Linked DNA regions of Homo sapiens: region 1 is linked to region 2. Evidence: fine-mapped expression QTL. A gene starts in region 2. The other region holds a variant in brackets. All regions are shown on one strand. Distances are from middle to middle. Region 1 overlaps IGSF9 (immunoglobulin superfamily member 9). Region 2 holds the start of VSIG8 (V-set and immunoglobulin domain containing 8).

What was found.
Region 1: its variant is fine-mapped to the expression of VSIG8 in whole blood (TOPMed, PIP above 0.99).

Annotation. Positions count from the first base shown.
Region 1 is chr1:159,933,111-159,937,493 of GRCh38, reverse strand. IGSF9 (immunoglobulin superfamily member 9) reads left to right here. Exons shown (of 21, transcript NM_001135050.2): 5 at 586-740; 6 at 978-1,095; 7 at 2,672-2,813; 8 at 2,924-3,069; 9 at 3,162-3,304. Among named protein-coding and RNA genes, the nearest start is that of TAGLN2, 9.8 kb to the right of the region's middle. RefSeq lists an enhancer at 2,016-2,516. The variant A/G (reference allele first, on the strand shown) is at 1,940.
Region 2 is chr1:159,860,701-159,865,083 of GRCh38, reverse strand. VSIG8 (V-set and immunoglobulin domain containing 8) reads left to right here and starts at 2,427. Exons shown (of 7, transcript NM_001013661.1): 1 at 2,427-2,611. The coding sequence starts at 2,563. It overlaps LOC107985216 (a long non-coding RNA gene), which reads right to left. Exons shown (of 2, transcript XR_001738263.2): 2 at 1-4,383. RefSeq lists enhancers at 2,099-3,011, 3,012-3,926.

The DNA of each region.
Region 1 (4,383 bases), 72 kb before region 2:
TTCAGTTCTTCAAATATAAATTCAATCAGCCTTCTAGGCTCGGTGTCAGGAACTCCCTCTTTCTCTTCCCTCCTGCTTCCCTGGCCAGGGAAGTGGGTGGGAGAGAGGGGCTCTTGGGCCCTGAGTGAAACACAGCTCACATATATATAGCACCTTGTGTTTTCAAAATACCTTTTCACCCAAGCCCTTATTATTTATCTCTCACTCCTAAGTAGGAAGGAGGTCATAATCATTCCCATTGCATAGGTGAGGCTGAGTCATGCCACTGATTAGTGGCAGAGCAGAGTCTAGGACCCAGGCCTCCTCACTCCCAGAACAGTGCTCCTCCTGAGGGGGCTTGGCTCTCCCCCAGGCTCTGGACATCCAACCTGGGTTCAGCCCCAGGCCAGTGTGTGGGGGTGGGTTGACAGAATCCTCATTTGGCCTGGGTGCAGTAGACAGGGTGGCCCTGGGCTGAGGACTCCTATGAGGCAGGGCTGGTGGGTGGGCAGCAGGCTGGAGCCCTGAGTGGTCTCCCTGGCCCTTGGACACTGCTTTTTGGGCTGACAGCCCCACTGGGGCCCCTGATGCCTGTCTCCCTTGCAGCACCCCCTCAATTCCAGGAGACACCTCCTGCTGTGTTGGAAGTGCAGGAACTGGAGCCTGTGACCCTGCGTTGTGTGGCCCGTGGCAGCCCCCTGCCTCATGTGACGTGGAAGCTCCGAGGAAAGGACCTTGGCCAGGGCCAGGGCCAGGTGCAAGTGAGTCCTGGGGGTGGACAGAGTGAGCCATATAGAGTGTGAAGGGAAGGTGGGGGCCTGGCAGTGGGGCCAGAGGACAGAGGAGGCAAAGGCCAGGCTGGAGGATGGGCCAGAAGAAGGGCTTGGCATTGTTTGCCCCGAGCCTGGGGTGCTGCCTCCCTCTGCTGGCCAAACTCGGAAGTGCAGGATCTGAGGCTGGCAGGGGAAAGGACTCTTCCTCACCCACTCCTTCCCTAGGTGCAGAACGGGACGCTGCGGATCCGCCGGGTAGAGCGAGGCAGCTCTGGGGTCTACACCTGCCAAGCCTCCAGCACTGAGGGCAGCGCCACCCACGCCACCCAGCTGCTAGTGCTAGGTGCTCTCTGGCGGGAGGGCTGGGGTCCAGGGTTACCTATGCAAGGGGGCTGTGACCTGTGGCTGAATTGGTTCACAGCAAGATAGGAGGGAGATTTGTGCCTGAGGGCAGGGCCCGTGGAAGCTAAGGGGGTTCCCAATGCAGGCTGTTGCTCTGAAACCAGCACCTTAATTTTAAAAGGCTCAGTAAGCAGACAAAGCGATCTTAGTGCCCAGTAGTGTGTTATAGTGGAAAGGACATGGGTGCTTGTGTTAGGCTGTGAGCCAGTTAACTCCTTGAGTCCCAGTTTCTTCATCTTTATAAAGAGACTCATCTCTACCTCTCAGGTGTGTTACAAGAATTTACTTAGGTGCAGCTGAGCCCAGTCACTGGCACATGGTAATTCCTGGCCAAGATCCTTCCTTTAGAAGGGAAACTGAGAAGCAGAAGGCCTGGACTGTGCCTTCATAGAGCCTATTATCTTTGTGGGGAAGTGAGACTAATTGGGGAAACAGGGAAGTGTTGCTGTCCGTGGTACTGTAAGAAAGGCAGTGCCGGGTAATGGTTAAAGGTGTCGTCTGTGGCATCAGGAAGCCTAATATGAATGTTGCCTCTCCTGCTGTCCTTGGGCAATCACCTCACAATCTCTCTGCCTCTGAGCCTTCACTTCTTCATCTAGAAAATGGAGACAATTCCCACCACAAAGCTTTTGGTGAGGATTAAACGAGGTCGTGCAGGTAAAGTGCTTAGCACTCAGTGTCCCGCATGCAGTCAGTGCTCTGTTGTGTCAGCTCGCATCATGACCTCTTCTTACTGACTGCTCATGCGGTACCGGCCCAGAGAGGGGAAGGAGTAGTGGAACTGT[A/G]GTAGCCAGAGGTGCTTTTGCAGGAGGTATGTGGCGCGGCCAGGCCCTTGGGAGGGGCATTCCAGACCGGGGGTGCAGGGAGCAAAGGCATGGAGATGGGGGACAGCCAGCTGCCCATACTGACCTGAAAGAGTTCATGAGGGCTGACATATGGAAAGATGGCTGGCCACGTAGGGAGGGTTTGGATCGCAGGGGTCCACAGGGCTGGGTTTGAGCTTAGTGTAGTAGGAGCCAGGTGCTGTTGCAGGTTCCTGAGCAGAAGTGTTCTGTGGCTCAAGGGGCTGTTTCTGTATGAATGGCCATTAGAGTGGCAGCTGCAGGGGAGCCTGGAGTCAGGGGCTGCTGCAGCATCTTGAGGTGAGGTATTGGGCACCTGGGTTAGGGCCAGAGACAGAGAAGTAATTCAAGAGGTGACAAGCAGGGATACAAATGGTAAATGAGCAGAGTTAAACTGACTCCCCCAAACACACACACCATTCCTAGGCAGTGGAACTGCATGAATGGAGTTGCTCTTGATGGAACAGAGAGAATTTGGAAAGAAGAATGGGTCTCAGGGAGAGGATGAATTCTTGTTACATACAGGGGGAAGCTTCTGCTTCCACTCCCCAAAGCCCTGTAACAACGAGCCCTAAGATTCCAGAGAGCAGAGCTGGGAAGAGTTGTAGAGGTGACCTCAGGGTTCTGGGAAGACTGTGGGCTGAGGCCACCTTCCTCCCCTTGTGCATCCCACAGGACCCCCAGTCATCGTGGTGCCCCCCAAGAACAGCACAGTCAATGCCTCCCAGGATGTTTCATTGGCCTGCCATGCTGAGGCATACCCTGCTAACCTCACCTACAGCTGGTTCCAGGACAACATCAATGTCTTCCACATTAGGTGGGGTCACCCTCATTAGGAAGGTGGAGGTGGGGAATTCACAAACAGTCTCTGAAGAGCCGCTTGGCTGGGCAAGGCCTGGACCCCTCCTCACACATGCCACATTGCAGCCGCCTGCAGCCCCGGGTGCGGATCCTGGTGGACGGGAGCCTGCGGCTGCTGGCCACCCAGCCTGATGATGCCGGCTGCTACACCTGTGTGCCCAGCAATGGCCTCCTGCATCCACCCTCAGCCTCTGCCTACCTCACTGTGCTCTGTAAGCCTGACCCCAGCTTCTCCCTCAGCCTGCTCCCTTCCCCTGGGCCAGGCCAAGCCCCTCTCCCCCAACTTGCCACTACTTTCCCCCAGACCCAGCCCAGGTGACAGCTATGCCTCCTGAGACACCCCTGCCCATAGGCATGCCGGGGGTGATCCGCTGCCCGGTTCGTGCCAACCCCCCACTGCTCTTTGTCAGCTGGACCAAGGATGGAAAGGCCCTGCAGCTGGACAAGGTACAGGCTTGGGGCAGGGGAAGGAGGGTCTTAGCTTGGCGTTATTCTGCTCAGGACAGCAGGGTGGAGTTAGCTCGGTTTAATTCAGTTCAGTGACTGGGGACACACATCTTTTGTGAATTTAATTTGTGTTATAAGACATGTTGCATAGGAAACTACTTAAAACCCCTGAGGAAAAATTTCCATGGTTTAAAGTGGTGGTTTTGTGTCTTCTTTGGGGAAAGAAGAGAGATGATCTCTGGGGAAAATGATGGCAAAGAGTCAAGAAGGAGAACTGAAGTTTCTTTCGTGTGATGACTGGGAAATTGTGTGTCCCGGGGGAACACACACTTCTTACCAGGTGCTGTGTGGGGTAGTGGGTTGAGGGCAGGGGCAAGGAGGCATCCATCCTTAAAGTGGGCACCATCTGGGCAGAGGACAGCAACACTGTCTGGAAGGCCAGGGATGGAGCTCGTGCCTTCCTCTTAGGGTGGTTGAGGATAGACCAGCAACAGATTCTGGGACTTTGGTGATGGGCCTCAAAGAGGACACAGTCATTCCCTTGCAGAAACCAGGGTCAAGAGGCAGGAAGTAGTATAGTACGTTTATGGAATCATGGATCGTCCAATTGGGTGGGAGCCGGAGTGCCTGCAGGGACATGAATGGTGCAGAGAAAGCTGGAAAGACAGGTTAGCATCAAAAGGAAGAACTGGATGCCAAGTTACTATTGCCTCATTCCAAGGCAATTGGGATCTTTTGTCTGCAGAGACTATAAATTTTTGAGGCCTAGTATTGCATCTTTTCATCATAGTGTACCTGGGGCTTCTACAACAATAGTACTCAGTATATCTTTGTTGAATATTTAAGAAAAAAGTCTACAGGCAGTTGGAGCCACTGGAATTTGTTGAGCATTGGTGTGATAGGATCAGAGCTGTGATCAGGGGTTGAGCTTGCCCAGTGGAATGTAGCGGGAGATACTGGACATAGGAAGAGGGGTTCTGAAGCTGCTGAAATGGCCCAGGTGAGAGTTATGGAGTCTGATTTACAGAGGACATGAAGATGAATGGGCTCATGCTCTGACAAAAGGGACTTCCCAGGAT
Region 2 (4,383 bases):
CCTCCCCACTCAGTAAGACTCCCTCTGATGGACCCCATCTTCTAGTTCGGTTTGGTGTCAGAGCCCAACTCATTGTCAGTAGCTTCCTGCGTCTCCTCCCCAGATGTTTTTCTGGAGCTTGGCCAGGTGGTGAGCTTTAGTAGTGGAGCAGGACTTCAGAGGGTCCATTCTCTATGGGATTTAGTTGCCTCATACCCCTTAGATGGGCTCGTGTACATTTGGCTTCCTCCTCCAAGTCTTGGGACCCCAATCAACATGTGCCATTAGTAGTCTCCCCGCACTAAGGATTGAAAATTCTAGCCAAACCTGGATTTAGCAGATGGAGGCTGAAGTCTTTCTATATTAGAAATAAAACCTCATCTTTGATCCCCATCAACTCCCGCTGCTTACGTGTCTTTAAACCATGTTCCAACCCTAACCACAGCCTATTTCAATGTGAATCTCAAACTTAGTTCTAACCCAATGCTAAATCAATCTAAACCCAGCCTTTGATTTAGCCCTAACTGTATTCCCAGGCAGAGCTGTAAATGAAACTAAAACTCTATTCCTTATCGTAACACAAATCCCAGCCATAAACCTGAGCCTCAATTCTAGCTGTATTTCTAACCCTAATCCCAACCTTAACTCTAATCCCAACCTCAAATCTGACCTCAACCTCATTCATAATTCAACTAACCCCAAACTTAACCCCAGCTCTAACATTAGCCCACATCCAGAACCCAATTAAATCTGAAGCCTGCACTGTAGTTTAGTGGAACCACAATGTTACTGCTTTCTCCTCAATCTCTCTGTTCGTGGTCTGACCTGTTTTCCCTCCCACTCACCCTGACCTTCCATGGTTCTTGTTCGTGAGTGGGTCTAGTAATCCACAGGATCACCAAGACCATTTTTTGGACCTCTCTGGACTGACACCCTGGGTACCTGGGTATCCCAGCTTAGGCACCAGCCGCATTGGCTGAATCCCCATGTTTCTCCAGGTCTCTGTTTCCCCATCTGTAAAATGGGGATAATGATCCCTGCTCTTCAAAGGGAGCAGGACAATCCCATAAACCTAAAAATAAATAAGGAAATAAAGATATTCATTGTGTACATCTGGTAGGTCTCAGAGCGCCCTGTTATTGTTGGGAGTTCAGGTGCAACGGCTTGGAATGCAGAGACGCGTGGACTCCTTGTGTTTCCTTAATGTTCTGACTTATTTTTCCCCAGAGGGGTGGGCCCTGGCAGCATCCCTGAGCCCCATAACTCTCCCTAACACTCTTCCTCCTCTGCCCTTTCTGTGCCCCATGGTAGGGATGGGGGCAGTCCCTGACTCCTTTGAGGGAGTTGAGCTATTGAATGGGGTCACTCATGTCCTGACTCCCACCATGGAGTCCAACAAGGCACATGCCCATTCTGTCCCCCTTAGACAAGCCAACAAGGGGTGGCCCTTCACTTGCTCCCCATGCCTACCAGGACCCTCCCCACCCCAGCACGAACTTACCCAGAACTGTGCTGGTTTAGTCAGCCCGATGACCAGTCCAGGTTATGAGGGTCCTTGGTCTCAAGGACCCAGTTAATACTGGGACTGCATTAACCCTCAAGACCTGGCTACTCTTTCTGGGCAGAGAAGCCAGGACACCAAGCGATCCCTCAAGAAGTTCACTCAGAGGGGCTTAGCCATCCTCACAGAGACACCCTGACACAGACATCCTGCCTCCCTCCCACAGACATTGCTGAGGGGTGCACACGCTTACACAGGCACCCCCTTCCCTGGTCCTCTTGGCGCTGTTCTCTCCAACACTCCCTCACTAGCCCATCAGTCACCTTACTCCTAGCACACACCCTGGACCCCCCATAGCACCCCTGCTCCCAGGGGTCCCCTACACTTGGGGATGGCCTTGAGTCGAGTATGGGTGTGGAGGACAGTTCCAGAGGGGACAGCCAGGAGGAGACTCTGTTCCTGCACACACCCCTTCTCTCCTCTTTCAGCTCAGGAGGCCTGAGTCCCTTTGAAAGGCCTGAAGCCTGGGGGAAGGTGGGCTGGACACTCCTGGGGAACCCTATGCCCTGGGATCAGGATTAACTCTTCAGGTCCTGGCCACTCTTTCTCCCAAGCCTGGCTTCTCCTTCCTCTTCCCCACTTCCCCCAGGGAAGGAGGCAGCAAATGAGTGGTGAGGGGAGCCCTTGGAAGCTGTAAATGAGGTGACTGTTGTCACCCTGAGGATGTGGCCAGGAGGAAGTGAAGTTTAACAGGTGCCTAATTACAAGTCCCGCTGGCTGTCCTGTGCCACTCTTAGGACAGGGAAGAGCTTGGGTGAGGGCTGGGTAATGCCCAGGTAGGCCACCCTGTCACCCTGCTAATTAGGGTTCCTGGGACTCCTCCCCAAGGCGGGGACCAGGCCCCCTCCCTCCCATAGAAATAACTCCAGCTGCTCCCCAGCTGGGCACTCATTGCACCTTCCTGCCACCCCAGGCAGTGTCTGGGCCCTCAGCTCCCCCTCCCTCCACCTACCCCCTCACACCCACCACTACGACCCCACGGGATACCCAGCCCAGACGGAGGAAACACCGAGCCTAGAGACATGAGAGTTGGAGGAGCATTCCACCTTCTACTCGTGTGCCTGAGCCCAGGTACGGGGCTGGGCAGGGGGCAGGGTAGCCAGCATGAGGCTAGGTGGGAAGGAAAGGGGCAGCAAGGGCTCACAGTGGAGCCTGGGGCTGCCTGAGTTGCCTGGCAGGGTGCTGCCCACCCTTGCCCTGCTGCAGCCGGGTGTGGGTATTACCAGGGGACCTTTCCCCAGGAGACCCTGTGCCTGATGTTCAGGGTGTGTGTCTGTAGTGCAGAGGTCTTTGAGTGGATCTTTATATGTCCCCTGTCGGGCTCACACATGTGTGCAGGTGCCCTGCAAGCTCATGCCGTGACTAGGAGGAGAGGGATTGATTGCTCTGCAGGAGCTGGAGGTGGGGTAGGAGAGGGGTAAGCACGGGCATTGGGTGAGGGCTCAGGAGGAGCTTGGGAAGGATCAATTTTCATCAGACTGTGTGCTATTCCCAACGCTACTCCTTCTCTCCCAAGGCCAGGGCCAAGGGGCAGGGAAGTCACTTGCCTTGAAAGGGCAAGAGACTAAGTCTGGTGTAAGTCTGAGTGGTTTCTTCCATCATGGCCAGTGACAGCTCAGGCCTGAGACCTCAGCCTTGGGCCCCCTGTGCTATGACAGGGCAGTGCCCCACTCTAGGATGAGGCCTGAGGGTGGTGGGGATGGCAACTCCAGAGACTTCTCACCCCACCAGGACAGGTCCACAGGGCAGGGCTCAAGTTTGGACATTGTGGCTTCCTGCCCAGGTTGGGGCAAGTTCCACCAAGGGGCATTCTATGCCAACATCACTGGAAAGGGCTCCGAGTCCCTCTTGCAGTCTGGATTTGGGATGAAGGGGCATGAAGGAGGAATTTGGGAAGGCGGGGTGACATTTTCAGCCTTTGTGTGAGCGTGAATGTGTATGTGAGTGTGTGGGTGCGTGCACCTGCATGGGAATGATGACATTTCCGGCAGGATAGCTGCAGCCCTTCTCTGTCTGATGAGAGCAGGGCTGGCAGAGTCCACTCGGGAGGCTCCAGCTGTGCTGTGGGGACCCGGACTTCCCCCTGTGTGGTGTGTCAATGGGTGTGTGAGGACAACTCAGCACTGGCTGCATTAACGCATCAATACCCTCAGCTGGAGCCGCCTTTTCTCCCCTCCCTTACCTCCAGAGGGAAGATCAGGAGTTCTGGAAGCACCTTGAAGATTCAGAAAGAATTTGCAAGCAGAGAGTAGGCACCACTATTGAGATGACACCCCGTAAAGCATGGCCAGTTTCTGGTGCTTTTGGGGGGCAAAGAATCACCACTGTCCTCTTCCTTGGAGAGCCCATGTGATTCCTCCATTCCTGTCTCTCCTCAAGTCTCCCATCCAGCTCTCTCTTCCACTTTGCCTTTCTTCCCTCTCTCCAGCCTCTCCTCTCACATTCCCTGTAGTACTTCCTTAGTGCTACAGCAAGAGGAATCAAGGTGAGACATTAGGAGCAACTTCCCAAGGAGAGGGAGGGGTGCGGAAAGGCTGGAACCCTTGGGAGGAGGTTGAGAAGACTTCTAAGGAGATAGAAAAGCTGGGTGAGGCTCCCTGGTCTGGGACAATTGAAGAATCTCTCAGCCTGGTGCAGGGTGGAGGTGCTTTTCTTGCAGCCTGTCGCTCCTTCCCAAGCCCCTCTCCCTGAATGCTTACCATCCTGCCTGGCAGGCTCCTATGGCATGGAGAGAGTCCTTCCTGTGTGGGTGCTTCCAGCGGTGCTTCTCCAGGGTGGAGCCTCTGCTCTCAGCCGAGTTCTGGCTCATCCCTGGCTTGCCTTGAGCAGCCTCAGGATCTGGC